Homo sapiens: one gene and its partners. The protein of the gene in region 4 interacts with the protein of the main gene of each other region in a pairwise test. Each region holds a gene or a part of one and is shown on either strand. Other genes may lie near its edges.

What was found.
Region 1: the proteins of CPLX4 (region 4) and GRM2 interact in binary tests that used the Homo sapiens proteins (3 or more experiments, as listed by UniProt).
Region 2: the proteins of CPLX4 (region 4) and SLC30A2 interact in binary tests that used the Homo sapiens proteins (3 or more experiments, as listed by UniProt).
Region 3: the proteins of CPLX4 (region 4) and NINJ2 interact in binary tests that used the Homo sapiens proteins (3 or more experiments, as listed by UniProt).

Annotation. Positions count from the first base shown.
Region 1 is NC_000003.12:51,709,372-51,717,528, reverse strand, and holds part of GRM2 (metabotropic glutamate receptor 2 isoform a precursor), read right to left. Parts: coding exon 8,096-8,157; intron 6,831-8,095; exon of another isoform or gene 5,810-6,830; intron 5,057-5,809; coding exon 4,219-5,056; intron 3,566-4,218; coding exon of another isoform or gene 3,546-3,565; exon of another isoform or gene 3,505-3,545; coding exon of another isoform or gene 3,408-3,504; exon of another isoform or gene 2,468-3,407; coding exon 1,392-2,467; intron 1-1,391. UniProt on the Homo sapiens protein: Dimeric G protein-coupled receptor which is activated by the excitatory neurotransmitter L-glutamate. Plays critical roles in modulating synaptic transmission and neuronal excitability.
Region 2 is NC_000001.11:26,035,669-26,043,118, forward strand, and holds the end of SLC30A2 (proton-coupled zinc antiporter SLC30A2), read right to left. Parts: intron 7,041-7,450; coding exon 6,881-7,040; intron 6,138-6,880; coding exon 6,032-6,137; intron 4,244-6,031; coding exon 4,109-4,243; intron 3,638-4,108; coding exon 3,492-3,637; 3' UTR 1,584-3,491; downstream 1-1,583.
Region 3 is NC_000012.12:659,755-667,942, forward strand, and holds the start of NINJ2 (ninjurin-2), read right to left. Parts: upstream 3,692-8,188; 5' UTR 3,607-3,691; coding exon 3,574-3,606; intron 1-3,573. UniProt on the Homo sapiens protein: Its role in unclear. In contrast to NINJ1 paralog, does not mediate plasma membrane rupture (cytolysis) downstream of necroptotic and pyroptotic programmed cell death.
Region 4 is NC_000018.10:59,294,441-59,302,345, forward strand, and holds the end of CPLX4 (complexin-4), read right to left. Parts: intron 2,486-7,905; coding exon 2,258-2,485; 3' UTR 962-2,257; downstream 1-961.

The DNA of each region.
Region 1 (8,157 bases), on a different chromosome or scaffold from region 4:
CTGGGCTGTGGTCCATTTGCCGGATCCCAAAGCATTGCTAGGAAAATTGGGCACAGTCCCAGCATCAGACCCAGACCATTTTCCCAGGGTGACAAGAGTTCCAGCTGAAGGGGAGAACATGCAGGGGGGCATGTATACACAGGGGTGTGTGCATCTGGGGGCTGCAGGAATGGAGTGCGTGCATGTAGGTGTGTGTGTATATCTGTGTAAGTGCATGTATGTGGGGTGGTGAATTTCTGCAGGTGTCTGCGTGAGTGTATGTGTGCGTGAGTGTAGGGTGCATGGGTATGGATTCATTTGTCAGGAAGATATATGTGTGTGTGCCAGCGAGTGTGTGTATGTGGGATATGTGTGTGTGCATGCATGCATGTGGCTATGTCTGTGTGTACAAGTGTGTGTGTGTGTGTGCATGCATGTGTGGGTACGGTGTGTGTCTCAGGTGAGTCCTTAGCTGCCTGTGATTGGCATGCAAATGCAAATCATATGCAAATGCAGGCTGAGTCAGAGCAGAATCCCTCCCCAGCCCTGGCCTCTACCACCCAAGCAGGTGGCCCAGCAGGTGCAAGCAGAGCAGCCAAGCCCAGCGGTCCCTGGCCCCCAGCACTGTGCCACCACACCTCTGTCCTGGGGAAGGGGCCTTTGCCGGGGCTTTCGCCTCAATTTTTCTGCAGTTCAGACCCTGCTCTGCACTCCCAAGCTGAGTGACCTTGGGCAAGGGATTGAACCTCCCTGAGTCTCTGTTTCTTCATCTGTAAAACGGGAGAGCCATGGAGCTTACTCAAGTTATGAAGATTAACCAAGATAATCTTCTTACTCAGAACATAGCTCATCTGTCACCTCCTCAGAGAGGGCTTCCCTGACCACCCTATCTGAAGCAGCCATTGCCCCTTGGAGCTGGGGAGACCCATTGAGACACAGTGCCAGTTGGAACCAAATTTGCTCAGAAGCCACCAACTGGGGAACAATTTTCACCTGCTTTAGCTTTTCTCAACTCTATACCCTGGATCTCCTCCCCTACCCACCTTGCTTCATCTTTCCTGCCTTCCCTGGCTTCATCTCTCAACCCCTTCTGCAGATGACCCCTCAGTGGAGCAGGGCAGAACCCTGTCCATTTGAACATATTTCTGCACCCCCATCACCTTCCAGGATAGGGGATGACATTCAAGTCCTGAAATCTCAGCTCTCTCTAACTCGAGTTCCCCACCTCCCTGGCCATTTCCCTAGGTCCTATTCAGCCCTCCCACCTTCCCCTTGGGATCCACACAAGCTGTGGTCCCCTGAGTGGGCATTATCCTCTTGGAACCCCAGAGCTACCAGTAGATTAAATAAGATACCAGGAAACAGAGGGTCTGGTGTCCCATCTCCCCCGACCTCTGTGGCAGGTAGCTCACCCGGTAGTCACTGGAGGTGACATAGAAGATGGGCAGGAATGCCAGCCAGATGATGCAGGTGGTGTACATGGTGAAGCCAATGAACTTGGCCTCGTTGAAGTTTTCGGGGCACTTGCGAGTCTTGAAGGCATAAAGCGTGCAGAGCGCGATGAGGAGCACATTGTAGGCCAGCGAGCCCAACATACTTGCATCGCGGTGGTTGCAGCGCAGTGTCACCACCTCCCGCCGTTCGGGGGCTGTCTCCTTGCCTGTGCCCGGTGCCTCCACCACCAGCCAGGCGACCACGATGAGCAGCTGGCCCGAGATAAGTGCCAGGCAGATGGCCACCTGTGAGGCAGGACTGATGAAGCGTGGCCGCTGGGCACCCTCCCGGGCCCCACCGAAGATGCGTGCAATGCGGTTGGTCTTGGTGAGCAGGGCTGAGTAGCAGACAGAGAAGGCAGTGCCCAAACCAAGACGCCGTAAGGTACACACTGCCGTGGATGGCTTGGCAATGAAGATGAAGGTCATGCAGTAGCAGAGGAAGACACCACCCAGCAGGATGTAGCAGAGCTCCCGACCTGAGGCCTTGACCACTGGTGTGGCATTGTGCCGCACAAAGACACCCAGCACAAAGAGGGTGGCCAGGGCACCGAGGCAGGCGATGGTGACAGGTCCCACAGCCCAGGCATCGCCCCAGCGGATGTACTCCTGGGGCAGTTCGAAGCAGCCAGTCAGGCTGGCATTGGGCCAGTAGCCCAGGCCACAATCAGCGCAAGTGAATTCGTCCAATCGGTACTCATAGGGCTGGCACGGAATGCAGAGCCAGCAGCAGACTTCGCCCGGCTGCACACTCTTCACCTCATTCTGGAGGCAGGGCTCACTGCAGCGAGAGGCGGGCAGGGGGCCGGCTGAGGGTGAGGCCCATGGGATGAGGCTGGTGTCCAGAGTCAAGCCTTCTGCCCAGTAGCCCACCTTCTGGTAGCGATAGCGCCCACTGCCTGCACGCAGATAGGTGAAGATGTTGTAGCGGCCAATACCATCACCAAAGCGGTCAAAGCGGACCTCATTGTGGGTGTCAGCTGGGCGAAAGGGGGCTAGGATGGGGGAGGGAAGGAAGAGAAGGTTGGACTAGTGTGTTACCCTGATGTGACCTCAACATTCACCCTAACATGGAACCCAAATGCCAGAGCTAAGACCACCATTAGCCCTTCCAATCCTTAACCCAATACTAAATCCTGCCTTGACCCCAATCATTTTTCTAAATGAGAGATGACAACAAAGTCTTACTCCTAAACTCCAACATCAAACCCCAACCCTAAATGCCAAATGTAATCCCAGCCTTAAAGCCCAGACATCTCCAAAAACCTAATGCCCACATCAATCCCCAACCATGACTCCCCAAATTCAACTTTAGTACTATCCAACACTTTCCAACCCAGGCTCCAAATCCCAACTTCATCGAAACATACACTACAGCCCTCTCCCCAAACTCAATGCTAAGGCTAAACCCAGTCTCAGCTCCAATCCTGTCCCCACTAATCCTAACAACAACCCCAGCTCCAGCACCCCTAGTCCTAACAGTCATCCTGGTGCAAACTGAATCCCAACCTCACTGGTCACCTGCAACCACTGCCATTCACCAGAATGTGGTCAGTGGCTGGAAAATCACTTCCTCTCTCCACCCCCACTTCATCCCCTGTAAACCTCACATCTCCCAGCCAGGCTCTAGCCAGGATTTACAGCCATCCCTGGCCCCAGTGAGAAATCAGGGTTCAAGAAAGCAGAAGACATGCTTAAGGCCCCATGAGTGAATAGTGCAGCCTAGATTCAAACCCAGGTCCCCTCAAGCACCTACTCTTTCTACTCAGCCTAAAAGTTCTCAAAATCCAACTCTAGCCCTACCATAAATTCCACCCAAGCCAAACATGCTGAATTTAGCCTTGCTCTAACATCAACCAAATCGGACCCCAGATTCCAACCCTAACCCCTACACTGATTGTAGCTAACTCTGAATGTCAGTTCTATTGGAAGTACTCTTCATCTTAACCCTGGGCCAGGGCTTCCAAGCTTTGTCTCCCACTGTTCCCACGGTGATTCTTCCTGAAGCATAGTGATGATCTGCAGCAGTCATTTCTCTTAAAGCTGGCACTCTTATTAAAATAACTTTTGATTTCAGGAGACTTTCAGGTCACCTTGAGTGGAAAATCAAGATTAGGAATAGAAATTTTCCCTGAAGCTAGGAGCAGTGCCACATGCCTGTCATCCTAGCTACTCTGGAGACTGAGGCAGAAGGATCGCTTGAGCCCAGGAGTTGGAGGCTGTATTGTGCCTGTGAATAACCACTGCACTCCAGCCTACAAAATATAGTGAGACCCCATCTAAGAAAAGAAAGAAAGAAAGAAAGAAAGAAAAAAGAAAGAAAAGAAAAAAGAAAGACAGAAAGACATTTTCCGTGAATATAGAGCGTCATCCTGATGCTCACCCTCAAGCCAGACTGATTCTAACTCTTGGTGCTGCCTGAGAATGGGCTTGAGGTCTCCTGGTCTCCACCTTTGGCAAGATAAGGAGACAGAAGACAGTGGGCAAGGCCCAAGGAGGAGCCAGAGACCCTCAAAATGGCGGGACCAGGCCAGAGGTCTACTCTCTGGAAGAAAGTGGAACCTCAGCCGTAGCTTCAGTTGGAGTCCTCTCTGCCTAGCATCCTTGCCCTTGCTCTGACGCCACCCCAGGTGAGTCCTTTACTTTCACTCTACTGTTTCCTTAGCAAAGGAATGGAAGCTGAAGTTCTGCTTCCCCTCATCCTCTGACAGCCAGCAGGCCAATGGACACTGGCCAACACCATTACCATCAAACTTGACGTTGAGCACAAAGTCCTTGTAGAGGCGGCGCCCGTTAACTGGCCGCATCGCGTCACAGAGCCGGGTGGTGTTGGGGCAGAGGGCACGGTGCATGTTGTGGAGCGCATGGGCCATGGCGTACACTGCATTGACCACAAACATGATCTTGGACTCCTGCTCAAAGGGCACAGCCCGGAGAGAGTGGGCTGCGCAGTCTCGCTGCCGGAAGCTGCAGCGGAACCTCTGCTCCCAGAATTCACGGAACCAGGGGTTCCGGCTGTTGTTCCAAGGGTCCAGGCTCTGGAAGTAGGAGGCAAAGTCACTGATGGGGTAGGAGGCCAGCTCGATGGTGATAGCACCCTCAGCAGCCCCCTCACTGCCTGCCACCACACTCTCCAGGGCCCCCCAACCATCACTGGCCACCCAGGTGAAGCTGGCATTGAGGCGCTGGCTGGCAGCAAGCAGCTCCCGGGCATCCTCAGAACGGGTGAACAGGACAGCCACGCGGGCACTGGGCTTCTGCAGCAGGGCTCGCACCACACCCTCAAAGGCCGCGCGGCTCATGGCACGGCCCACTTTCTCCGAGGTGGCCACACAGATGTTGCGGGCACGAGCCTCTAGCTCAAAGGCCTCAATGCCTGTCTCGCCATAGTCGCCCTCAGACGCCACAGTGGACACATAGGTCCAGTTGAAGAAGCGGAGAATCTCAGCCATGGCCTTGGCTTGGAAGAAGTCAGGAGGCACTGTGCGGGCAAAGTAGTCATAGCGGGACTTGTCACTCAGCTTGGCACTGGTAGAGGCGTAGCTAATCTGTGGGATCTGAAATAGCCTCAAGAGGTTGGCCACCTGGGGGAGGAGTAGAGAAGGCAAAGATCAGCGGTCAGATCAAACACTAGAGACAGGTGCATCCCCCACAGCTAGCAGGTCTTGGTGTCAAGTGTCCACAAGGTCAGGCCTAAAGGCTCCCTCTCTAAAGCCCTGCATCCTGACTTGACAGTCTTCCCTCTGGGCTAGGGAGTTTTTTTATCTCTTTCCAAGGGCTGAGAGAGAGAAGACCCAGGGTGGAGACACCAGGGTCATGAGCCACACCTGATCCCCTCTGCCATCCCCTTTTAGACACATGGCAGGGGGGCCAAGGAAGGCCTGGGTGGAGGGAGGTTGGCACCTGGCTACACTGGGGCAGAGGGAGGCATGAGATGGCATCTGGCTACTCAGGGCTCTTCGGCTCTCTACTTATTTGAGGGTAGGTGGCCCTTCCCCTGAATCAATCTGATGGAATGATACAGAAAGAAGGAAAAGTTTCCCCTAGGAAGAAAGACACAGATCCCAGGGTCCGGTGGCCCTAATAGGCCAAGGCTTGGTCTCCATTGAATGCCTGAGTCTTAAACGTTCTACCACTGGCTGCCTGGCACCCCATCTCCCACCCTCAGGTCCCACAGGAGTGGGATCCGGCCAAGGGCCAGGTAGAGGGTGGGTAGGTGAAAGCAGAGCATGGCCCAGATTCTACAGCAGAGGGGTGAGTCTTGTGTTGCAACTGGATACAGGCTATGGCTCTGACAGTCTAGGGCTCAATGTCTCCTCCCCTCCCACACATTTTACCTTTGGGCCCCTGGAGTTGGCAAATCTCCCTGAGCCTCAGTTTCACATTCCTGCCCTACAAGGCTGCTGAGAGGATAAAAACGATAATGCATGGGAGGCCACAGTGCCTGGCAAAGGGAAGATGATAGGGACATGGGCAAGAGAGAAGGAGCAGCCATGAGGGGGAATATTAACAGGCAGGTGCAGCCTACGGATGACAGGCTAGCCTCGTGTTGATCAGGACGAGGGAGAAGCAGACCACTGCTGAGGCGTGGGCCCTGATCCAGGAGGCAGGCAGCTTGGGATGGCAAGGAGGTAACTGGACTTCTGGAGATAAATGCATGAGCCCTAAGGAGGACTGTGGAGAAAACTTCAGCAGAGGCCCTGGAAGACAGCAGCAGGTAGGAGGCCGCCCACTCATCCCTGCCCCAACCCGGGGCTGCAGAAATAGATGCTAGCACAGCCACATCTTCCCAGGCTGCTGCCTAGCCACCTCCAGTGACTGGGACTAGCAGGACAGCTGCCTAGCCACCTCCAGTGACTGAGACTAGCATGACAGCTGCCTAGCCACCTCCAGTGTCTGGGATTAGCAGGACAGATAATCCACTCCCAGCAGTGGATGGAGTGGCCAGGCCTCCCCGACTTCAGGCCGGTAGCTGACTCCAGGGTTCTCTGATTTCTGCTTCTGCTCCATTTCTCCTGAACAACTGTTCTAGGACAGGGGGCCTGGCCCTCTCCATCTCGGCAATGCCCTCAGCCACTCTCCGAAAGGAAGCTGAGGCCAAGCCAAGGCCTACCTTATGTCCCCCAGCCCTGATTCTAGCTCCAGCCGCATCTTCCAGCAGCCTGTGCTGGGCACTTGGCAAGCGGGAATCTGGGTGAGAGGTAGGACCCAGTCAGAGATGGGAGGATCGCAGCTGGGCACAGCCCTGGGAGCAGCAGAGGGGTGTCAGCAGGGCCAGCAGCCTCTGCTGAAGCTGAGCCACAGAGCACCCTCTGCTGGTCCCTGTGGGAGAGTAGGAGGCTGAGGGCAGGGGAGCTGCCTCCCCACCCTTCCCACCCCCTCAAATCCTGTGCCCCCTGAAGACTCTCTGGTGCCCTCCCCCGACACATATTCTGTTTATCTTCCTTCTGACTCCCCTACCCTGATTCTCTCCTCTGGCCACTCCTGGCTTCTATCTGGCCACCCCTCTCCAATCCAGGCAGAGATGATCTGACAAGTCAGGAGCCCCTTGGCCGAGAGCCGATTTCACAGTTCCCCTCCACCACTGCCTTGAATGTGGCCCACCTCTCTCTGAGCCTTCGTTTCCTCATCTATAAAATGGGTTAAAAATAATAGCAGCTAATATCAACGGTGCCCTTATGACTTGCCGGGCCCCTGATACATACTATGCATCTATCAACTCATTAAATTTCCATGGCAAACCTCAAAGTAGAAAGTGTTGTGGGCCGGGCACAGTGGCTCATGCCTATAATCCCAGCACTTTGGGAGGCCGAGGCGGGTGGATCACCTGAAGTCGGGAGTTTGAGACCAGCCTGACCAACGTGGTGAGGTCAGGCTCGTCTCTACTAAAAATACAAAAATTAGCCGGGCATGGTGGCAGGCGCCTGTAATCCCAGCTACTTGGGAGGCTGAGGCAGGAGAATCACTTAAACCCGGGAGGCAGAGATTGCAGTGGGCTGAGATCTCACCACTGCACTCCAGCCTGGGAGACAGAGCGATATCCTGTCTCAAAAAAGAAAAAAAAAAAAAGTGTTGTGAATCCAATTTTATAAGGAAGAAGCTGTGACACAGAAAAGAGAAATAACGTGCCATGGTCATGCAGTTAGTAAGTGGGAGACCTGACTATTAAGCCCCTCAGGGTTAACATCAAGGGTGAGGGTGTGTGTGTGTGTGAGGGTGTGTGTGTCTGGGTGTGTGTGTGGGTGTGGGGGTGGGTGTGGGGTGTGTGTGGGTGTGTGGGGTGCGTGTGTGTGGGTGTGTTGGGTGTGTGTGGGTGTGTCGGGTGTGTGTGGGTGTGTGGGGGGCTGTGTGTGTGTGTGAGGGTGTGTGGGGTGTGTGTGTGTGTGTGAGGGTGTGTGTGTGTGTGGGAGTAATGAGAGTAAGATGTTCTCTTGCACAGTCTCTAAAAATCGACCACCATTATGTGACCAGGGCACTTTCTTAGCTTCTGTAAAAGCTACTGCAAGGAAGCTTCTAGTTTCCCTTCCAATTCACAGCAGCCCATGAGCCCCTTTTCAGCAGGAATTCTGGGTCACCACCTCCGGCCTCCCTCCCTAGCCCCCATTTGGGTGGCTTCCACGTACCTGGATGGAGACATCACTGTAGGAACCGCCAATAACACCAGTGATGGCAGTGGGAGCATCAC
Region 2 (7,450 bases), on a different chromosome or scaffold from region 4:
CCCAATGGGTTCGGTCTCCTTTGCGCTTTCGCAGTCCAGTGTTTGCCGCGGTTCCCGCACGGTCAGGCCCCAGGACTGGCTTGCGAGCCCCGGGGGGCGGGTCGTGTCGTGTCCTTTTCTCTCTGGCTAGGCAGGTGTGCCGCAAATATTTGACGAATAGATGGATGGCAGACATTAACTGCGTGCCTGGCCCTATGAGGGCGGCGGCGGGACAGGGTGAGCGGAGAGACAGAACTGTCCCCGCCCCACCCCGCCACCCATTCCTAGGGTTCCTAGTCCCGGGAAGGCAACTACCCAAAGACGCCTGGGTTGTCAGGCTCAATCCTTGAGCCTCAACCAAGGAGCAGAGGGGTGCGGGTAAACGAGGAGTGGGGCGAGGAAAGCGGGATGGGAACAAGTGGCCTGTCCCCGCACGGCCCGCGGCTCAGCCTCGGCCGTCTGCCCTGCACTACCAAGGCCGACCACTAGAGGTCAGCGTCGCGCCGCACTCTTCACCCGCATGTCCAGAGGGCGGCCGGGATGTGGAGGGTGAGCGCTGTGGGCAGCTCGGGGGCTGAAAGCTGGGAAGAGAAATCTGAAGAACAGCCCCATCTCTTTCGCCTGCACACTTGGAACTCAGCAAGAAGGGACTGTTTCTAGGTGGGCTGGGCGCGAGCAGGGACTGTCCCGAGCGGTATAGGTGAGAATGGAGTTGGGGGGGGACACTAGGTCCTCCGGGGTTCACCCACCTGGAGCTGGAATTATCACTTCCGAAATAAAGCGCGTGTCCTTGCCCCCTCACGCTCCAGGCTATAAATACCCTTACAGCAGCTGCTCGAGGGAGGGGCTCAGGGCTCAGGGCTCGCCTGGGAGCGCGTGCGACTCCAGAGGGTGAGGGTGGTGGGTCCAGCCCAGGTCCAGGGTGTCAGGTGTTTTCCTGCTTTGATGGCCTGGCAGCTCTGGAAACTCCCGTGACTGTCTCACTGGCAGGAACATACTGTCCCCTTAGGCCTCTCCAAGGCCTTCCACCCCCACCCCCCAGCTTGACCTCGGCGGGCCCCTGGATGACTCAGGTCCTCCCTAGAGCCAGTCACAGCTGAGTGGCAGAGTGGGTTACCCTTGGGAGGCGTGGTGCTGTGAGATGCTTGAGGTACAGGGCGGACTGGAAATTAAAGAGGTGGGGGAGAGGCAGTCCGGCCCGGAGTCAAGAACTGAGGGTGGGTGGGAAAGCATACAGCTGGGGCCCAGGCAGCCTTCCCAGGGTGGGGAGGGCGCTGGATGCCAGGCCCAGCCAGGTGAAAGAGGCACCTTTCCAATCACAGCTGTGACACCCAGGACACTGAACTGCCTTGGCATGTCCTCACCCATGGGCCGGGCACTGCTGGTCCCAGGGGTTTGTATTGTACCAACAGGCAGCGCAGACCGACAGGCCCCCAGACCCTGCTGTAGAGGAAGGTCTACCGAAATGAGGCAGAAATCCCAGACCTGCCTGCACTGGCTGTCTGACTTCAGGAAAACGATTCAACCTCTGAGCCTGTTTTTTCATCTGTAAGAATGCAGGACAGCAGTGATGGTCTCCTTTTTTTTTTTTTTTTTTTTTTTTTAAGCTGGAGTCTCGCTCTGTCACCCAGGCTGGAGTGCAGTGGTGTGATCTCAGCTCACTGCAACCTCTGCCTCCCCGGTTCAAGCGATTCTCCTGCCTCAGCCTCCCGAGTAGCTGGGATTACAGGCACAAGCCACCACGCCTGGCTAGTTTTTGTATTTTTAGTAGAAATGAGGTTTCGCCATATTGGCCAGGCTGGTCTCGAACTCCTGGCCTCAAGTCATCTGCCTGCCTCAGCCTCCCAAGGTGCTGGGATTGCAGGCATGAGCCACCGTGCCCAGCCAATGACTGTCTCTTGAGAGGGGTGTAAGGACTTGGCATACGGCAAAGCCCAGGATCAAGTTCCTGGGGCCTGCCATGGCTTGGGTGGGGGTGGGGAGTTGGGTAGGGGAGGTTGAGTCCCCTGAGATTGTGGTGGAATGGAGCACCCACCAGCAACCCCCCACCCCTCTCCAGGCCAGTGCTTTCCACAGACTTTTCACAGACCTGGAGGGGCTGAAGGACCCACCTACCTAGAACACAGGCGATCAGGATGACAGTGCTGGGAAGGCACAAAGAGGTCATTTCACAGATGGAAAGACAGAGATTTAAAGTGGGAGGCAAGTGACCAAACCCACCTCCTCCCACCTTGGGCCAGAACAGTCAAGACAAACTCAGCACTGCCCCTGGGGAGGCTGGGAAGCCCACCTGACTCCTCAGTGAGGCAGCCTCGGGCCACAGAGTTCCCTGTCCCCAGGATGGTAAAAGTAACCAATCTTCAACAACCACAGGTACTTGGCCAACTGGCTCTTGTTCTCAACCCTGTGAGGGAGGCATCAACCCTGTCGGTGTACAGATGAGACTGTGGGGCAGAGGCCAGCTCGCCCAAGGCACTTGCTTACAATGGCAGAGACAGACCTTGTGACACAGGACTCCCTGATAACTGGGCATGTTGTCTCGATGAGTCGGGGACAGGTTTCCCCTCTTGCATCTTGTAAACAAAAGCCACCCCTAAGTCAGGAATCTTCACACACAAGCCCCAGGAAGCTGCGGTTTCCCTCCTAGCTGGCCTCTGGACCGAGTGCAGCCCCACTTGTCTCCCTTTCCCTCCACCATGTCAGGCTCCGACTGGGTCAGGCCAGGTAGGCAACAGAGTTGGCCCAGCCATATCTTTCTGGAGACTCTGAATCCCCTGGGACACTCTCAGGGCAACAGAAGTGCCAGGGGGCTTGGAGGCTGTTAGTGCAGAACCCAAGCTGAAATCTCTCTACCCCCTGCCCACCACCTGTGCCAAAGTTGTTTTTTGTGTTGGCACAGCTGAGGAAATAAGGAAAGAGGAAACCTGTCTCTTACCTAGTAAGAAGCCTCTCCCCTCCAGGAAAGGGAACATTTGGCTCATAGCTGAAGTGACTAAGGCACAGATAGGCCTCAGGTGCCTCCTGGCTCCCTGCCTCAGGGAGGCTCAAATGAGAGTGTGAGGGTCCTCACCCCCGTGCCTATTGCTATAGGCAGATGGAGGGGCTCAGATTCATAAAGGCAAAGGCCAGCCAGGCTGAGAATGGGGCATGAGGCAGGCAGTATGGGCGCGCTGGGGCCAGCCTCCCCTTGGACGTCCCGTGGCTCACCACCTTTGCCCCTGCGAGTGGTAGAACATTTGCTGAGGATTAGGCCCAAATACAGCCCTTCCAGAGCTGGCCCAGGAGCTGGAAGAGCAGGGTCACACTAGCTTTATACCCGCTGAGTCCCCACCCTGGCTGTAGTCAGATGGGAGGCTGGGAAGAGCTCCATTCCTGGAGTGGGGCAGAGGTCAGGAGGGGGACCTGGTTTACAACACAGCTGGGGTAGGCAAAGTCCTGGCTGGGCCTGGGGGACACTCAGTCCAGCCACCTGCAGGTCCTGTTCATGCCCCAGTTGGTGCCTGGCTGAGCAGTCAGTCTGAGGGGCCCTGGCATGCCTGACAGTCCTTCATGTCCTCCGAGTAGTCCTCGATCTGGATGGTCACGGTGTGGAAGTGGAACTTCCCTTGGAGGCGGCTGCTGGCTGTCTTCAGCACAGCCTGGGCGTCTGTATTCTGAGCTGGGGGCCGAGAGGACACAGCGGGGGAAGCCATTTACTCTGGCCCTTTGGAACCATCAGGAGCCCAAATCTCATACCCCATCCCCAGCAGAACAGGATGGGGGACCATGAACATGGAGAAGCCCCCAGATTCCATTCCTCTGCCAGGTAGCCTCCCAGCCCAGACCTGGCTCATGCCTGAAAGAGCTGGTAAAGCACTGGCCTTAAGGCCAGGAATCTGCCACCTACTGCCATATACTAGCTGTAAAAGCCTGGGCAAGTAACTTTACCACCCAACCCCAGCCTCAGTTTCTTCATGGATAAATGAGATTGTGCTGATCAGATGGAATAATGCGTATCAAGTACTCAGCATGAGGCTGGGCTTGATGCATGGGCACTGTGAGCATCTGGGGTCACCTGGACCCGTTGGGGATGGCACTAGGCCTTTGGCTGCCTGTCTCCCACCCCACCCTGAGTGTCCCAAGCACTCACCAATGGCGATGTGGACAGACAGAACAGGCTGGGCCACCGTCAGTGCCCAGATATGCAGGCTGTGCAGGGCTTCTACCCCCTCCACCGACAGCAGCAGATCACGAACAGCTGTGAAGTCAACGCCCTTGGGGGTCCCTGAGGACGGCAAGGACAGGGGAAACTAAAGGAAACTACCCCTCCCACGCCTGCCCATTGGTGCAGGGCTGGCTCCTGATCCTCAGGTGTCATCCCCTCAAAGAAGACCTCTTTGGCCTGCAGGTCTGAGGCTGCCTTCACCTCCCAAGGTCTCTGCCCTATCACTCTGTTGTATTTCCTCTCCACTCTTAACACTGAAATTATTTATGAATGTACTTATTGTCAGTTTCTCCCTCTAAAATGGACACTCCATGAGGGCAGGACAGTCTCCTTTGATTACCACAGTATCCTTGGTGCCTAAAACAGCACCTACTCCATAGTAGGTGCTCAATAAATATATTTTTTGGTTTTTTTTGAGACGGAATCTTGCTCTGTCACCCAGGCTGGAGTGCAGTGGCGTGATCTTGGCTCACTGCAACCTCTGCCTCCCTGGTTCAAGCAATTATCCTGCCTCAGCCTCCTGAGTAGCTGGGACTACAGGCGCATGCCACCACGCCCGGCTAATTTTTGTATTTTTGGTAGAGACAGGGTTTCACTGTGTTAGCCAGGCTGGTCTTGAACTCCTGACCTCAGGTAATCTGCCTGCCTCGGCCTCCCACAGTGCTGGGATTACAGGTGTGAGCCACCGCACCTGGCCAATAAATATATTTTTGAATGGAAAGAAGGAAAGAACAGATCCTGAGAATCCTTGGACCCACCCAGGGCACGATCATCATCTTCATCATTATCGCTTTCATCTGGGTTAGCATATTCTTGGAGAAAAAGCTCTGACCTGCAGCCAAATACTGCTAAGCCCAGGCCAGCATCCTACTCCATTCCAGACTGACCCTGACCACGCAGAGGCCTATGACCCTGGCCCAAGACCCCAGGCCTAGAGCATAAGAAAGCCAAGGTGCAGGGCCAGGTGTGGTGGCTCACATCTGTAACTCCAGCACTTTGAGAGGCCGAAGTGAGATGATTGCTTGAGCCCAAAAGTTCGAGACCAGCCAGGGCAACATAGTGAGACCCCCCCCCCATCTCTACAAACATTTAAAAGTTAGCCAGACATGGTGGCATGCGCCTGTGGTCCCAGCTACTTGGGAGGCTGAGGCAGGAGGATTACTTGAGCCTAGGAGGTCAAGGCTGCGGTGAGCCTTGGTGGCACCACTGCACTCTAGCTTGGATGACAGAGCAAGACCCTGTTTCAAAAAAAAGAAAAAAGAAAAAAAAAAGGTAATTCAGGGCAGACCAGATCATTCTCCACCACTGACCGTTCTCCAACCCCACAAAGCACAGCCATGTCCCCACAGGGTGTGGCATTGTTTGGTCCCTGAGATGTAGGAAAGGCCTGCGCTGCAGTGGATTCAGTAGCTTTGTCCAAGGCTGACTGTCCTTCTCTGAGCCTCAGTCTGCCCCTCTGTGCAATGAGAAGCATAATCCTCACCCCCTCTCTCTTCCTGAGAGAAGGCAGCCAGAGCCTGGGGAAGTGTATAGGGGAGGGCTGGAGAGCTCCAGATGCTACAGATGTCCCCCAGAAGCCACCTGACTAGGCAGAGGAGGCACCCTTAGGGGTAGGGGGAAGGGAAGACTCGGGCTGGGGGACGGTTCCAGGAACTGCCACACCTGAAAGCCCAGGCTCTATGTCAAGATCAGCCCAGGGGCCCCAGGAGGTTTTCCAGCCTATGCCGGGGCTCCGGATCCTGGCTCCCCGCCCATGTGCTAGGATGCCCCAGACACACACATACCCTATTTGAGCTGATTAGCGCTTGAGAGCCAAGAGCAAAAAGGGAGCCACAAAGCCCAGGTTACCTTCCATCAACACCAGGATCACATCTCTCAGGATGGTCAAGGTTGTCCCCAGGACCAGGATGGAGAAGACGAAGGTGCAGATGGGGTCTACATACTTGTATTCTGGCTGCAGGAAGACAGGAAGGCAGACCTGGAGTTCACCATCTAACACCTCAGCTTCCCTTCTCCCCTCCCACCCAGCACTGCTGGGGAGAGGTGCTCTCTCTGCTGGGTGGGCATGAGCCTCGCCCTGGCCCTGCCTCCCAGTTTTCTGCTCTTTATTTCACATCTGCAAGAGCAGAAAGGACAGACCACAGTTCAGAATAAGGCAGTCCCTTCCCACCCCTCCTTCTCAAGGAGCTGAGACATGGACAGAGCAAAAAGGCATCTTAGATACCATCTGATCCGCCATCCGTCCCCATTTGACAGATGGGGAAATTGAGGCTCCATTAGAGCAAGCAAACTCATCCAATGTCACATGGCTAGCAAGGAGGAGAGCCAAGCTTCAGAGCAAATGCCTGCCTCTTTCCACTACAGCTCCCTGCCTCTATGTGATGGGCATTGCCCAGGGTTTGACAACACACAGTCGTAGGCTTGAATCTGGCTCTATGCTTTACCGGCTGTGTGACACTGTGCAAGTCACTGAACCTTTCTGAGCTACAGAAAACACTACCACCTACCCTTCAGGTTGTTGTGAGGATCAGAAGTGCTGACACTTGGTAGGTATTGGATAAATGTTCCTTTCCTCTCCCCACCCTTTTCCCTAGAACTGGGAGGGAGCTAGAATCTGAAAAGAAACCCCGGTAGAGAGTATACTCAGGTGGTCTACACTCCCCTGCCACCCCCACCACCCTGTGTCCCAGCTCTGACCTTGAAGTATAAAATATAGGCTGCCACTAGGACACCCATGCTCTGCATAAAGTCGCCGATCACATGGATGAAGGCAGCTCGGACGCTGGGGTTCTCCTCCTGCTGGTTGGTGGTGCCGTGGCTGTGCCCATGGCCAGACTGGTGAAGGGTCAACCCCATTCTATGGAAGTGGAGACAAAGCCAAGGGCTCACTGAGGTCGCAGATGGAGGTCACCTATTAGGACTAGCCAACTTGTAGGGCAAAAATCTCAAGCCCCTAAACCTTGTGATCTCTTTGGCCATGTGAGAAGTCCAACCCACGTGGCCTTGGTTCAGACAGCCATGAGAGATAGGGCCCAGCGCCAATGCCAGGCTGAGCCTGGGCACAACAATGCCACAGTGTCAAATCTCAGAGCAGGAGGGCATTAGGGAGGTCACTGTCAGTTCACTCCATCATGTCACAGATGGGGAAACTGAGGCCTCTGAACAAAGACCCCGAAAGAGACACCCATTGTCTCTAACTGAGACCAATTTCAGACTTGGGTTCTGCCCCTAGGGACAGCTACTCCTGCAACAACTGGCCTCTTCCCG
Region 3 (8,188 bases), on a different chromosome or scaffold from region 4:
ATTAGAGTTTCCCAAACTTCAGTTGTGCCATGTTCAGGGTTTCAACGTCTCAGTGCAGTAGTAGGTGCGGGCACACACACCTGTGATCCATGTCACCCAGGGCTGCCGTACTTCTGAACAGGTCAGACAGAAACAGTTACTAAGACATTGAGGGTATGCCCAGGTCATGTGCAAGGACTGTATAAAGGTGTCAAAAAACTTCCTGCCACTTACTTGAGGCTCATCCTAAGCAATAAAAATGTTGGAATTGCCTGGACATGTGGCTCATGCCTGTAATCCCAACACTTTGGGAGGCCAAGACAGGAAGATCACTTGAGACCAGCAGTTAGAGACCAGCCTGGGCAATACAGTGAGACCCCAATCACTAAAAAAAGAAAAAAAAAATTAGCTGGGCATGGTAGTGCACATGTGTGGTCCCAGCTATTTAGGAGGCTGAGGCAGGAGGATAACTTGGGCCCAGGAGGTTAAGGCTGCAGTGAGCCAAGATTGCACCACTGCACTCCTGCCTGTGTGACACAGCAAGATCCTGTCTGTTAAAAAAAAAAAAAAAAAAAAAAGGAATCACAGGTCTGATAAGTTGTTATGCTTTCTTTCTTTTTTCTTTTCTTTTTTTTTTTTTTGAGACAGAGTCTCAAAAGTGCAGTGGCACGATCTCCGCTCACCACAACCTCTGCCTCCCAGGTTCAAGCAACTCTCCTGCCTCAGCCTCCTGAGTAGCTGGGACTACAGGCGTACACCACCACGCCTAGCTAATTTTTGTATTTTTAGTAGAGACAGGGTTTCACTATGTTGGCCAGGATGGTCTGCAACCCCTGACCTCGTGATCCGCCCACCTCAGACTCCCAAAGTGCTGGGGTTACAGGCGTGAGCCACCTAGCCCGGCCCTGTTATGCTCTTTCTAATGAATACTGAAACTATAAAGATGGCCAGCTATGGTGGCTCACACCTGTAATCCCAGCACTTTGGGAGGCCGAGGCTTGTGGATCATTTGAGGTCAGGAGTGCAAGACTAGCCTGGCCAATATGATGAAACCCTGTCTCTACTAAAAATATGAAAATTAGCCAAGTGTGGTGGTACATGCCTATAATCCCAGCTACTTGGGAAGCTGAGGCAGGAGAATCACTTGAACCCAGGAGGCGGAGGTTGCAGTGAGCTGAGATTTTGCCACTACACTCCACCCTAGGCGACAGAGTGAGACTCCATCTCAAAAAAAACTGTAAAAATAAACATTATAATAAAAAGCTGTCAGCCATTGATGTACCTTTACCACCCATTGGTGATAATTGTACCACATTTTGGGGAAACATTGTTTTAACTAAAGAGTGTTATTGTTTTGTTTTTAGAGATAGGGTCTGGCTCTGCCGCCCAGGCTGGAGTGCAATGGCATGATTGTAGCTCACTGCAACCTTGAACTCCTGGCTTCAAACAATCCTCCCACCTCAGCCTCCCGAGTAGTGGGGACTACAGGTGCATGCCACCATGCCTAGCTAATTACTTTTAAATTTTTAATAGAGATAGGGTCTTGCTATGTTGCCCAGGCTGATCTCTAGCTCTTGAGCTCAAGTGATCCTCCTGCCTCAGCCTCCAAAATGCTAGGATTACAGGCGTAGGCCACCGTGCCCAGCCAAAGGTGGACAATAAATTGTAGAAAATAATGGATAACCTTCTGAGCAAAGGAAAATGTAAGATACAAGAATTAAATAGCATATTAGAAGAGAGTGAATGACAAATGAAGAGAAAGGTACACTAACACCTCAGTTACCTGCTAGAGAGAGACATTCATCCAGCCTAGCCAGTCATTTCCTTCTCCTTCCTCCCACCACCTCTTTCCTTCTGAACCTCTGGTTCAGATGCAGAGTCCTTAGCCTGTAACTCTGGATCGTTCAACCCATCAGCACATAAGAAACTTGCTCTTCTGAGAATGAAAATAAGCAGCAACACAATTTCCTTAACAACCAAGGATCTTATAGAGGCAAGAACTAGAAGTAAGAAGAAAACACATACTAGGGACAGAAGACATGGACTGGAGGTCTTGGGCCAATTAGGTGACCTTATTCCTATCTCAGAGCCTCTCCAACTCATGGCTTCCTCAACTCATTCATTTAACAAATGTTTTCTAAAGCAATGACCGTGTACCAAGAGTTGCCTCATGCACTCGGGCTGCAGCAGTGAATAAAACAGGAGAGGCCCTGCCCTCAGAGATCTTGTGTCCTAGTGAGAGTGACAGGCAATACATACTAAATAAATAAGCAGTGTAACTTTAGGTGGTGAGCAGTGCTATGAAAGAAATTAAACAAATGATAAAGACAAATTGGGGAGGAGGCATCCTGTGAAGAGGTTGGTCAGGGGAGGGCTCCTGGGGGAAGTAACATTTGAGCTGAGACCTGAATGTACTAGGAAGGGCCAGCCAGGAGATAAGCCAGGGAAAGAAGGTTCCAGACAGAGGGACAAGCAAGCCTTGCGGTGGGACCGCTCTCGGGGCTGGCTGCCAATCCAGGAAAACAGCACTGGGTATGCAGTTGTACTAGGTGAATGGTTTTGACACAGCACACCAAGCAGTCCTACAGTTCCCTGGTGGTGTCTCAAGGGCGGAGGGGCCAAGGACAGAGACTCTGCCAGACTCACGCCACCCTGCCCAAAACACACACAGAGAACGAGAGAGAGAGAGAGAGAGAGAGACGCGTGCACATACTCTGCTTCAACAAAACAGCTCTTCTTTAATCCGAAGTGTATATTGGGTGGCTGCTTAAGATTTTGTTCGAGGACCAGGTTCAGGGATCAGAAATTCTTGATCTCAAAAGTCCTTTTCCACACTTTGTTTGATTCTCTGCAATGTTACACAGCCTCAGCAGTGGTCATAGAAGGGTTCGTTCTATTCTATCCATTGGCAAGGAGTCACAGAGTGCAGCTCCCAGCAATCTGGCTCTCCTCTCACCGTAACATCCCACCCTTTCCCCTCCAGCAGTGGACTGGAACCTCTGATGCCTTCCAAGCCCATCCCAGCTACAGAGGGACACACATCTCTGCCTCTTCCTAGGAGATTAGACTGATTTCCTTTCCTTGCACTGTCCAAATGAGACGCTTTCTGTCCTACACAGTAGAGCTTTGTGAAGACAGCCGAGAAACGGCTCAAGTTTTTTCCAACCTGTAAAATGCAAAGTTGGCCAGCTGCCTCTCTTCCTAGCCTCAAAACTCATATATTTCCTGTCTCCCCGGCAGCTCTAAGAGAAGTCTCTACTGTCCTGGGGTTTGGGGAAAGCACTGCTCAGAATGTGAAATCATTTTCTGGTAATACGGATCTAATTAGCTCTTTGACTGACAAGAGGAAGCAGAGGCCAAAAGGGAGTTAACCAATCTGTTTTTCAGATATTTCAAAACAAGTGAAGAACCAGATAGGGAAACAGAGAGAAAGAGAAAATAAAGAGACAAAGCCTAGGGAGCATTTGGAGAAGGGAGTGAGTAAGAAGAGAACGGGGAGGGAGAATATCAAGTGACTAAAGTATCAATCCTCTGTTCTTCCAGCTTCACCTCTACTCCCGGTCTCCCCTCTGCTCTCTTCCAGAGAGAACTTACTTGAAGGTCGATGTTTTCTCTTGCTGATTCCATCTCGCTGCCCTCAAGTCCCTTCACACGCACCGGGTGCCGGGAACAGACTGCGTGGGCTCCTCCAGGCTCCGCCGTCTGAGTCTCTGCTGCTTTCTTCGGGTGGGAGAGAGCACACAGCTGGCGGGACAGACCTGCCATTCATCCCTCTGATGTGGGATGCCCGTCTTGGCTGCAGCCTCTGGGGGAGGTGTGCACCTGCACACACGTGTGAGTGTATGTGTGTGCACATGTGTGTGCTCCAGGAGGTGGCACATGGCACACTGATAGGTGACCTTTTGAGTTGGTAGTGACAGCATCATTTTCACCAGTGGCTCCAGTGACCTTCCAGTCCCAGCGGAGCCATCTGAGGTCACCCAGCCTGCTTTGAGCTAGTAGCTTTATGACTGGCAAAGAAATCCTGCATGTTTATCAAGCAAATTGAAAAACAGCCTGAGGACAACGCTATCTGACTTCACCGCTGGGTCCAGTCCCCAGTCGCCACGGGTGGAGTGACCTCCAGCACAGTCTCAATACTGAGGCAGAGGGATTTCCGTTGTTCTTTGCTTTGTTCCCTATATCCCTAAAAGTTTTTAAAAAAATTGTAGTTTACCTAATAGGCTCCAAAGCATAGGCTTTGTTCTGCAAAGTGAGTGAACAATACGTTTTTACTGACGGATTGTTTGATTCCTTCAACTCCTCCCTTGATTAGCCATAGAGGGAGCAGGGAGTAGTTGTACCTTCGAAGCTTGTTTATGCAAACAGTGGTATTCTCCCTACTTTTAAAATAAAATTACCAGGAGGGAGTCTTTTTTTAGAAAGTTTTTTTTTTCCTCTCCTGTTTACCTTAGAGCCCAAAACTCTTCTGGCTTGTTCCTGAAGCAAGGTTTAGACACAAGCTTGTGCAGGTGTGGGTGTGGGTATGTCTGTAGACGTGCATGGCAGGGTGTTAACCTGTAATCCAATTCAGGGCTTGAAGAGGTGCGGGCAGGAGGAAGACAGGCAGAGTCAACACGTTTACCCTCACCACATTCAAATGTAAAAAAAAAAAAAGGCGATTTCTTCAGTTCTATGAAATGCCTTTATAAGTTCCCATCCCTCTGGACAGTGGTGCGAGGGAGGGTTGGATGATTGGATGGGGGCCATATTTTAGTCTAATCTATGAAGCATAGTTGGATTTAATCATTTAAATGGTAAACAGTCCACTTTAGACACAATGCTCAGTCTTTCGGATTTGCAGAAGATGGCACCTAGGTGCACAGGAGGGCGGGGTGGGGACGGTTCTTGCATCTATCCTGTGGCCTCTCCATCTCGGCTCCTTTCTGTTCTGGAGCTGCTGGGCCCACGGGCCCGCCCGAATTGCTGACTGCTGAGGAGACACAGGTCCTGCTCCTGGGTCTTCTGCTGGCCTTGGTGGCTGATGTCTGATATTAGGCCAGAGTCACTCATGGGTGATTCTCTTTCTGCCTTTGAGATCCAGTGTTCTCCCTTGCTGTCTGCGCTACCTTGGCTCGTGGCAATGTGGACCATCCTGAGACCTGGCTTTGACTTGTATGTGCCCCCATCCCACTGTATCCGCTCAGTGGCCCACATCTCTAAGATAAGCCCCTCGAAATTTTCCTGTGAGATGCTTGACCAGTGCTCCTGAGCCCCCTTAGGCACATGGGGACTGAGGGCTGCTGACGAAGGGCAGGGGAAAGGCAAGCTCAGCCCCACTTCCAGCAGAGTTTGCTCTGATGTGGCTGCTCCAACTGACACAGGGCAGTCTGCGAGGTGATCTCCTTCCACATTCCTGAATGGAAATGAGACCTGGAACCCACTCTTCTCAGCACTCCTTAAAAAGTCTACCAGTAATATCTATCACCCCACCGCTCATAATAATACCACTATGTATCAAGCACTATTCTAAGCACTTTTTTTTTTTTGAGATGGAGTCTCGCTCTGTTGCACAAGCTGGAGTGCAGTGGCGCCATCTCGGCTCACTGCAACTTCTGCCTCCTGGGTTCAAACGATTCTCCTGCCTCAGCCTCCCGAGTAGCTGAGATTACTTCTTCCCATAGTCCCCTTAATCTAGAATCAGAAAATGTACGCTTTGTCTTCTTTTTTTTTTTTTTTTTCCTGTTTGGCTGGGATGTATCTGATGTAGAACTCTATGACAACAATTCAAAGGGAAATGAAGAAATTTAGAAAATCCTCTCTCTCAAGAAAACCTGGTTGTCAAAAATATTGTCTTGGCTGGGCAGCATGGCTCATACCTGTGATCCCAGCACTTCGGGAGGCCAAAGCCGGAGGATCTCTTGAGCCCAGGAGTTCAAGACCAGCTTGAGCAACATAGTGAGATCCCATCTGTAGAAGAACTTTTTGGCTGGACATGGTGGCTCACACCTGTAATCCCAGCATTGTGGGAAGTAGAGGCAGGAGGTCACTTGAGCCCAGGGGTTCAAGACCAGCCTGGGAAACACAGTGAGATCCTGTCTCTACAAAAAAAAAATTTTTTTTTAATTTAGCTAGATGTGGCAGCTTGCAGCACCTGTAGTCCCAGGTACTTGGGAGGCTGAGGTGGGAGGATTGCTTGAGCCTGGGAGCTGAAGGCTGCAGTGAGCTATGATCATGACACTGTACTCCAGCCTGAGTTGACAAAGCAAGACCATGTCTTAAAAAAAAAAAAAAACTTTCTGGAAAACCTTATTTCGGATGCCAGAAGCAAAATATTAACTATTTATTTCTCTTTGCACTCCTGTTGTGAAAATCCTCATTATCTTTTAAATAATATGGATACATCTGGCTGAATAGAGGGAAACAGGAACAAAAAAATGCAAAAGAGAAAAGTACTCGAATATATTTCAAAAAATTTCCTATTAATAAGCACATTGGTTTGAAAAGGAAACAGCTGTAATTGGTTATAATAATGGTTTTGGTTTGGCAAGATCTTTCTGGATTTGGACCTTTCCCCATCTCATAAGCATCATTTGGAAGTAAACAGAAAAAAGGCTTTGGAAAATGGTTTATCTACCATATCACGCTGTAACCCTGGACCAGGGGTCAGCAAAGTTTTTCTTTTTCATTTTTCCCTTTTATAAAATTCAAATTGCTATATGAAGCTTTTTTAATTTTAATTTTAATTTTTTGAGACGGGGTCTCACTCTGTCACCCAGGCTGGTGTGCAGTGGCACAGTCTCTGCTCACTGCAATCTCTGCCTCCTGGGCTTAAGTGATCCTCCCACCTCAGGCCCCAACCCCCAGCCCAGTAGCTGGGATTACAGGCGCGTGCCACCATGCCTGGCTAATTTCTGTATTTTTTGTAGAGACGGGGGTTTCGCCATGTTGCCCAGGCTGGCCTCAAACTCCTGAGCTCAAGCGATCCGCTCACCTCGATCTCTCAAAGTGCTGGAATTACAGGCGTGGGTCACCATGCCCAGCCAGTAAACTTTTTCTGTAAGGGGCCAGAGAGCCAATATTTTTTAGCCTTTGTGTGTCATATGGTTTCTGCTGCGATGACTCACTTCTATAATAATGTGAAAGCAGTCATAGACAACATGTAAATGAACGAGTGTGGGAGTGTTCCAATAAAACTTTATTTACAAAAAGAGTCAGATATTCATAAAAACAGACCGGAGTTGGCTCCACAGGCTATAGTCTGCTGACCCCTGCTCTAGGATTTAATCAGAGTCTTTGAAGTCTAATTCCCACTTGAGAGGCAACTACTGAGTCTCTACCACGTGGATATTGGGTTAAACACTGCGGGGATATAAAAGCACCACATGCACGCCCTGGTGAGACAACTGATGGCAAGGGAAGCTGTAGTGAAGAGTGTTGCTGCCATTTGGCTGGTGCTGAAACTGCACCTACGTGGAGGTTATCACTGTGGGTGGAAATGGTTTCTATTGTTCTTTACTGCTAGGGTGATTTTTGTGGTGTAAAGCCAGAGGGACATTTTTAGGGAGACTGTCTCTTGGAAAGCATATTTTGGAATATCCTTGAACTTACAGATAAGTAGACACTCAGAGTGACTCAGAAACTACTCTGAGTCTAGTTTCATGGAATGAGGGGTCTACAATGAGACCCTAGGTATCTTGCTATGTAGAAGGAGCAAAGCATTGTTGTAGGGTACTGAAGAAGGCAACAGCAAGAAGATCCTTTAATTTTGAATTGTGGGAAAAGCTCTAGGGTGAAAGCCAGGTGGCCTGGATTCCTCTCTGTGTGCTGAGTCACTGTGTTTTTAGGCAAGTCACTTAACTTCTCTGGGGCTTACATTCTTGTTTGTGAATGTGAAGCTATCAAAAGAGTTGATTCCTAAGATCCCTCTAGCTCTTAAATTCTGTTTCTAATGTGTGTTTTGGCCAGGTGTCGTGGCTCACACCTGTAATCCAGCACCGAGGTAGGCAGATCACCTGAGGTCAGGAGTTTGAGACCAGCCTGGACAACATGGTGTAACCCCTCTCTACTAAAAATACAAAAATTAGCTGGGCCTGGTGGTGCATGCCGGTAATCCCAGCTATTTGGGAGGCTGAGGCACAAAAGAATGGCGTGAACCCAGGAGGTGGAGGTTGCAATGAGCCGAGACCACAACACTGCGCTCCAGCCTGGGTGACAGAGTGAGACTCTG
Region 4 (7,905 bases):
GTGACTTCTGTACCACTGGAAGCTTTCAAATAAGGCTCAACTGGGACAGTTTGGGAAGGGTCCCTTTATTGTATGGGAGATTGGAATAGATTCCCTCGTAGTCCTTAATAATTGTTGGATTCTAGGTTTTGATGATGGGAGACCTTTTTGTGCTCCTCAACATCATACAGCACAGACACCTATCTACCCTCTAGAGAGAAAGGGGCCTTCTGGATGCCCTAATACATGTCCTCCCTCTCCCAACCCATACACATGTGATTTGGTGTTGATTGGGGTGGTGTGGTTTGGCATGGTGAGGGGTGGTTTAGTGTGGGGTGGTGCGTTGTAGTGTAATGTGGTGTGATAGGTTGTGGTCTGGTGTAATGTGATGTGGGGTGATGTGATATACTGGGCTGTGTTGTGGGGTTGTATGGTGTGATATGAGAGGAATCATGGTCAGAGTCTTCTAGCAGCTGTGCAGCTTCATTGAGACAACGACCAAATTGCATTGGAGTAATGTTGGCAGTCAAGAGGAAGTGCCAATTTAGTGATTTCCTTAGCAGAACTGGCTGCATCTTTTACAAGAAAGCACATCTTCTTTGTCATCCTGAGGCTAGAGTGTGGAACAATTTGGCAGCTGTAGTATTTTATGTCATACAAAGTGTACAGATATCAGGCCACATACAGCACCTCTCACCCATCCATACTACCCACCTCACCAACTACAGGGCAGAGTCAGGCATTAAACTGAAAATAAATGTTATCTATTATATTGTAGTTTTTAAAAAAGTGAGTTTTTTAAAGTTTCTGCTATAAAACAAATCACAACTCACATGCCATTTCTGATAAAAGACAAGCACAGTTTTAAAATGTGCCCATGGCATCTGGGTTTGTGGACTAGAAGGCTAATCAGCCTCAATCATTGCACCAATGTTCTCCCAGGAATTTCCAAGACAGATTAAACTTTGCCAAGGACCATAGGTTTTGGACCTCTATTCATTTGTTTTATTTGCTTAATTTTATTACATGAAACTTTTTGTACAACACATTTGAGAACCCTGGGTTTAGAACAACTTAGACCCTAAGTTTTCGGTCTCAGTTTCCTTTTCCTTTGATAGATCTTTATTCACTGTATGAACAGAGTCACCAAAAAAAAAAAAAAAAATCAGTATTTTGTTTTGGTTTGGTGGGCTTTAGCTAAATAGCTCGAAGTGTTTCAGTGGTAATTGTCCTAAGTCTTTTGAATTATTCCTTTTGAAAGAGAGCAGATATTAGGGGGGAAAAATCAGTGTCTACCCTGAAAGCTTGTGGCACCAAATGACAGTGTGATTTACTGGAAGGTAGTCTAAAGGGGTGGGATGGGAAGGGACAGGAGAAGAAAAAAAAAAGAGAGATAGGGAGAGAAGGGGATGAAAGAGAGAGAGAGGTTGGGAGGAGACAGAGAGAGATTGATTTAACTTCTTAATGCTCTCTGTTAGTCTACCCACTTTGTTCCCATTGCTATCACCAAGTTCAGACAAGGAGAGTTAAGCTCAACTCAAAAAGAGCAGCCGTCTGCCTGGTTTCCCTCTGCCTCTAATTGTGCCTCCCTTGGTTCCATTCTTCACATGGCCACTAGAACGATGATCTCCATTGCAAAGGGCTAGTGAGGTCTATTCCCTGCCTCAATTCGTCATTGTTCACCACATCTGTGCTACCGCCACTTGGCTGAGAAGCATCCAAGGACCAAAGGATCCAAGCATACTTGATGAGTATCATTGACAAATTCAAGGATCCTAGAGGTGAGGGGTGGGGGTGGTGACCTTTGATTGCCCTGGAGTCTGTAGACTCAGCTCCCTGTGGGAAACCCGGCTCCCAGTAGACACCTTGACTCTCCACATTTCTCTCTGAAGGGACCTGGTGTCCTGCGAATAGTTGGACAGGGTGAGAACTTGGCCTCCAAGGAAGAAAGTTGGAGAGGAAATGCCCCTTGCTTTTGTTTCTTCCTGGCTCATCTCAAGGTCTTTAAGCAGATATGTGTTCTGCATCATCATTTACAACTGAAATTTTCCAGTTTATCTCATTTATAACTAAAAGGAAAGTAAGGTTCCCGCTGCAAGGTGTTAGCTAAATGCTCTGCCAGGAATATTTAGAACAACCAAATTATTGTCTGTCAATGGATCATCGTGGTTTTCCTAACTGTGTTCACTACATTAAAACATGTACTGCTTGAAACGTCCCACAAGAGAGTGGTCTTTTCCAAGGATGGCTGGTTCCCTCCCTCCACCCCTCCCACCCCTCACATCACGGAACACTTCTGCTCCGCTGTCTGCTTGATTTCAGTGAAGGTGGCCTGGGCTTTTTCTTTTATGGTATCCAAGTCCATGTTCTGGAGATTCTGTATCTGCCCAAGAATAGAATCTTTATCTTCTTCCTCTTCTTGATCTTCATCTACCATTTTCCGGAGATCTTCAGGTAAATCCACATCATCTCCAGCCATCTGGATTTGATTCTCATCCATTTCACTCTATGTGAAAAATAAATAGAGATAGATAAATAACTCTAAACTACTAACTCACTAACTAAATAAATTTTAAAAGCAGCAGGAAAAGGTCTTTAGAGAATACAGGAAGTGAGTGGCACTCTTGGCCTTGCAGCAGAGCCTGGTCCTGATGGCAGTTGTGGGGGCTTCTGTAGGGGGGTCCTTTCTTCATGGCACCTTGCGTCGATCAGAACCTTCCAGCATGGTGGTTCTCCAAGTGTGGTCTCTGGACAAGCAGCATTAGCATCATCTAGAGCCTGCTGGAACTACAAATTCTTGGGCCCCATCCCAGACCCACTGAATCAGGAACTCTGGAGATGGAGCCCAGCCATCTGGAATTTTTTTTTTTTTTTTGAGAGGGAGTCTTGCTCTGTTGCCCAGGCTGAAGTGCAGTATCTCGATCTCAGCTCACTGCAACCTCTGCCTCCTTGGTTCAAGCAATTCTCCTGCCTCAGTAAATCTCAGTAGCTGGGATTACAGGTGTGCACCACCACACTCAGCTGATTTTTTTGTATTTTTAGTAGAGACGGGGTTTCACCATGTTGGCCAGGCTGGTCTCGAACTCCTGACCTCAGGCGATCCAACCACCCCGGCCTCCCAAAGTGCTGAAATTACAGGTGTGAGCCACCACTCCCAACCCCATCTGGATTTTTAAGAATGTCTTTCTCTCTGTGATGCTGATACACACAAAAGCTGGGGCATCACACCCCAACTCTGCCTAAGGGCAGCTTTGCAAGTCTTGCAGATTCTATCAGCCCCATGCCAAGACCCACTCACCTGGTTGACCCCACTGTAGAGGATGAGGTCTCAGTTTATAGTAACTAGACAGTATGCATTAATTCACTCATCACACCTTAGTGGCAACTTTTTCTTAATCATGGCTCTTTTCCTCCCTTCCACTAGACAGGGAGCCCGTCATGGGCTCTTGTCAGATTCAACTTTCCACCGTTAGCACCTGGACTGGAGTCTAGCACACAGTACACATGTATTAAGTGAACCATCAAGGGCATGGCCGCCACTCAGCATACTGGCAGTCTAGCCTTCGGTGTTGCTGACGCTGTCACAAGCGCCTTGCACATTTCATTTTGTGATTTTAGGAGTGTCTGTTCTAGAATTTCTTAATGCATGCTGCCTGGTCTTTGAGATTCCTTTATTTTTTTTTTTTTTTAGACAGGGTCTCTCTCTTTCACCGAGGCTGGAGTGCAGTGGTGCAATCTGGGCTCATTGCAGCCTTGGCCTCCTGGGCTCAAGCAATCCTTCCACCTCAGCCTTCCAAGTAGCTGGGACTACAGGTATGCACCCCCATACTCAGCTGAGATTCTTTTACCACTTAGGCTATAGAGTCTCTTGTTCTGTAATGAGAGAGGAGTCTAAAGAAAAATATTCTCTGGGAAAGGTTAACAGTAGCTTACATCCCCAGATGGCTGCTGTCAGATTTTTTGGAGATCAGGTTGTAACATGAGGTGACCTGGGTTTCAGGGAAACAGAAGATTAAAAAGAGTGTCAGAAAAGCTAATGAGAGGAAAGATCTATGTTAGAGCCACCTGAATATGTTGTGACCAGCCTTAAATTTGTTACCAAAGCTCATGAAAAATCATATTAAAAAATGACGATCTTAGTCAAACAGACTACATTGCTTTAAGAAAGATTTCTGCACCTGGTGACTTCTGAGGTGGAGTTAAAGACAGCACCTAAAGAGAGATCTGAATTCTCCCTGTCTGGGTGCTATGTAGGAATGATCAGAAAGAAACATCAGTTGTCTCTAGGTCCAAACAGCACACCAGGTAACCTGGAAACTTCATTCTTCATCTGGAAAGTGGGTTGGAAGGACGAGATGGCTGAAGTCTTTTCCAGTTCTAACACTCTGTGGCTCCCATCCTTGGAGGGGCTGAAGCCCAGCTGCCTTTCCTCAGGGCTCTCTTCTTTGATTCGGTTCCCTGGGCAGAGTGACACAGGAGTCTGGCTCAAGAAATAGCTTGAGAAGCAGATTTCTGATGCAGCAGGAACCACTGATTTTGGGAAGGACAGTCTTCACCCAGGCCCTCCTTGGAGAGCCTGGAGGACAGTCCCACTCCGCGCCAGCCTCCGGAGATAAGTGAAGCCTCTCCCTGCTCTTGGCCAGGGCCTTGGGCCCTCCAAGTGCTTAACGGATTAATTAGTTCCTGGTCAAACTGTTGTGGGATTAATTAGTTAGTTAATCCTTAGGGGCTCCCAGCCAATTGTGCATTTCTATTTATTTTTTATTTGCCTTCCCTAGCGGCTGCTTTCCTTGCTGATCGTCTTCTGGGACTTTTTGCAGGAAGGAGAGGAAAAGCACAAGGTGGACGACTCATTCTCAGTTCATGCCAATGTGGGACATCTGCCCTCTCTTATGCATCCTGAAATCAAATGCAAGTAATCTGAAAAGACATTCCCGGGAATTCTGGCCCCTTCCCTCAGGTTGGTAGTAAGATCCCCAAGCATGTCACCAGGTTTGAACCTGGACAGGGTAACTGCTGTGGGCTTGCAGGGATGGGCAGCTAGAGGGGCTAGAGGAAAGCGTGTCAGCCAGCCAGGAGTATAAAACACCGAACACACTCATGAGGGCTCACGGGATGGTGCTCGCCTGCCTCCCATTCACAGGGAGACTTCAGCGAGGCCACCATCTATGGCTCTGCAGCGCTTGAAGAAGCTTTGGGATGGTTTCCTCCTTCAAGGGTGACTCTGAGGTTCGTTTTATCCTTGTGCTTCTTGCTCAGGGAAGGGAGAGCAGTGCAATTCTACGTTGCCTTATGGAGAGGATCTTGATTGCCCTAACTTTTATCAAAGTGGTTCTCAAAGTAGTTCTCAAAGTGGGTTCTCCAGGACAACAGCATCAACATCTTTTGGGACTTTGCTAGAGATGCACGTGCTGGGACCCTACTCAGACCCACTGAATCAGAAACTCAGGGCTCGGGCCTCGCAATCTGTGATTTAACAAGTCTTCCAGGTGATTCTGGGGCTTGCTGAAGTTTGAGAACCCCTGCTCTACATTTCTTGAAGACAAGGGCTGTAACTTACTCATCTTTCTGTCTCATAACCCAGCAAGGTTTCTGGCATGTAGACACAGACAATTATATGTTTACTGAATAGCCGGGCATGGTGGCTCAAGCCAGTAACCCCAGCTCTTTGGGAAGCTGAGGCGGGGGGATCACCTGAGGTCAGGGGTTCAAGACCAGCATGGCCAATTTGGTGAAACCCCGTCTCTACTAAAAATGCAAAAAATTAGCAGGGAGTGGTGGCACACACCTGTAATCCCAGCTACTAGGGAGGCTGAGGCAGGAGAATCACTTGAACCTGGGAGGCAGAGGTTGCCATAAGCCAAGATCACGCCACTGAACTCCAGCCCGGGCAAAAGAGAGAGACTCTGTCTTAACAAATAAATAAATATTTTTAAAAATTAAAATAAATGTTTACTGAATGATTCAATGAACCTATTGTCAGAGAGGATAACAGCCTTAGTAATACTCAAATTTGTAGGTCCTCTTTGCTGTAAAGAGCTCTGTTTTCGTAGCTATCGGTTTATCTTTATAATTCCATTGGGGCATCGCAGCCTAAATTGCCTGAGTGAGCACATTAGTTCTACCACTTATAGGATGGGTGACCTGGGGCACTTCGTATAGATGGCCTCTTTGAGCTTTATTTCCTTGTCTGTATATGGAGAATTGCATTATTTGCCTTAGAGCTGTGGAAGGTTAATTAGATGGTAACTGAATTATTTAGAATCTGTTAAGCACTCACCCAGTAGTAGCTATTCATAAAAATAATAACCTTCAGAGGTGGGCAGGGGAATTTGCTGTGGGCAGTCTTGCACATGGGGTTAGCTCTGTCAGGAGGCTGTGATGTCCTGGCACCTTACCTCTGACCTAGCAATGACTCCTACCTTCACCCAAAGGCTTGGTTTTTCTAACAAGCCAGGCTTAGTCATTTCCTCTTTAGCACTAGGCTCTCTATTCTAGGAGAAAGCTACCTAGCCAGCCCTAGCTCCCCTTACCTCTTGTCAGGCCCGCCCCTGACTTTTGTGGGTGGCAGAACATAAGTGCTGATAGAAGTTCCTGGCTCACAACCTGGCCCTCTTTTTTTTCCAGTTCCTGGTGCCAGCCCTCACTGGGAAGGGCCTTAGGACCTTGGGTGCATGGCCCCTACCCCACTCCTCAGGCCTAGTCTGCCTGGCCACTCTCAGGAGCACAGATCTGCATCGGAGGCCTGAGAATGCTCTGGAATGCACTTAGGCAGGGCGTTTGGGGTCCTAAGCAGCTTGAGCATAGTCTACAAGAGGGGTGTGGGCTCTGCCTGGGCTAGGCCCTTTGGCCCACAGACTCTTCACCCCGTGTGAAAGAGTGTGGCTAGAAGAGAGACCAAGAGAGCCCTCTAAAACATGGGCCCCAGGGCAGTGGCCTCAGATGTCCAGGTCCAAAGGCAGCAATGGGTGTACTCGATGGCTGTGGTCAGAGAGTCCTGCACTCACCATTGATCTAGAAGTACAAGGCTACTGGCCCTCCACCAGAGCATGGCTGCTTCTGGAGATGATTCTAGTCTTGAAGCCAATTACTCTGGGCTGCAGCCTGTGCCATGGACATCTTATGACTAAAGGTAGGACAACCAGACAAGGCCGTTGAGTGGCTAGAGGAGAAAATGATGCCCTCTGGAACCAAATGTGGGCCTGTAGCCTCATTAGCTCTGGATCCTAACTAATTGAGCTAGCCCTAGACCTAGAACTGGCTAAGTATTCAAGTATCTCCTTTGTAAAAAGTTGCAGCCTATCCAAACCGTTTTCTGGTGGAGGCAGCCTAGGAGAATGAAAGATTGTGGGATTTGGAGTTAGACATGGGTTTGAGTCCCAGATCTGCCATTCACCAATGCATGACCTTGGGCAAGTCAACTTATGTTTCTGATGTCCAATGGAAGGGCCACTTAGAGGACTGTTGAGCAGATTGAATGAGACATGCTGTGAAACAGCCTCGCAAGCATCTAAGCTCTGGACAAATGGTAGCAGTGGTTATGAATATTTTAGAGGAAAGAGGGCAGCTCAGTGTCAAGATCCCTGCTGAAAGGATCCCTGGGATAAAGAAGGCATGGACAGTGAAAGAGACGGTGGGAGAGTATCGGCCCTTAAGAGAAAGATCCGGGACACAGCAAGCAATTAAGAAGCATAAATGGGATTTATACAGTGGACACAGCAGCCTTGTTTCCTCTCTTCCTAATGAACCACCCTGCTGACAGGACCTTGTCTGCAATTCAAACAATGAATGTCTTGTCCACACGTTCTGCTGCCCATTGACAAATCTTGGGTTGGGGAGACCAGGAATATTTGGACACAGTTCACACTTCAAGGAAAAGAAGTAATGCCTCATTACAACCCCCAAATACAAGTGCAGTTATAGCCA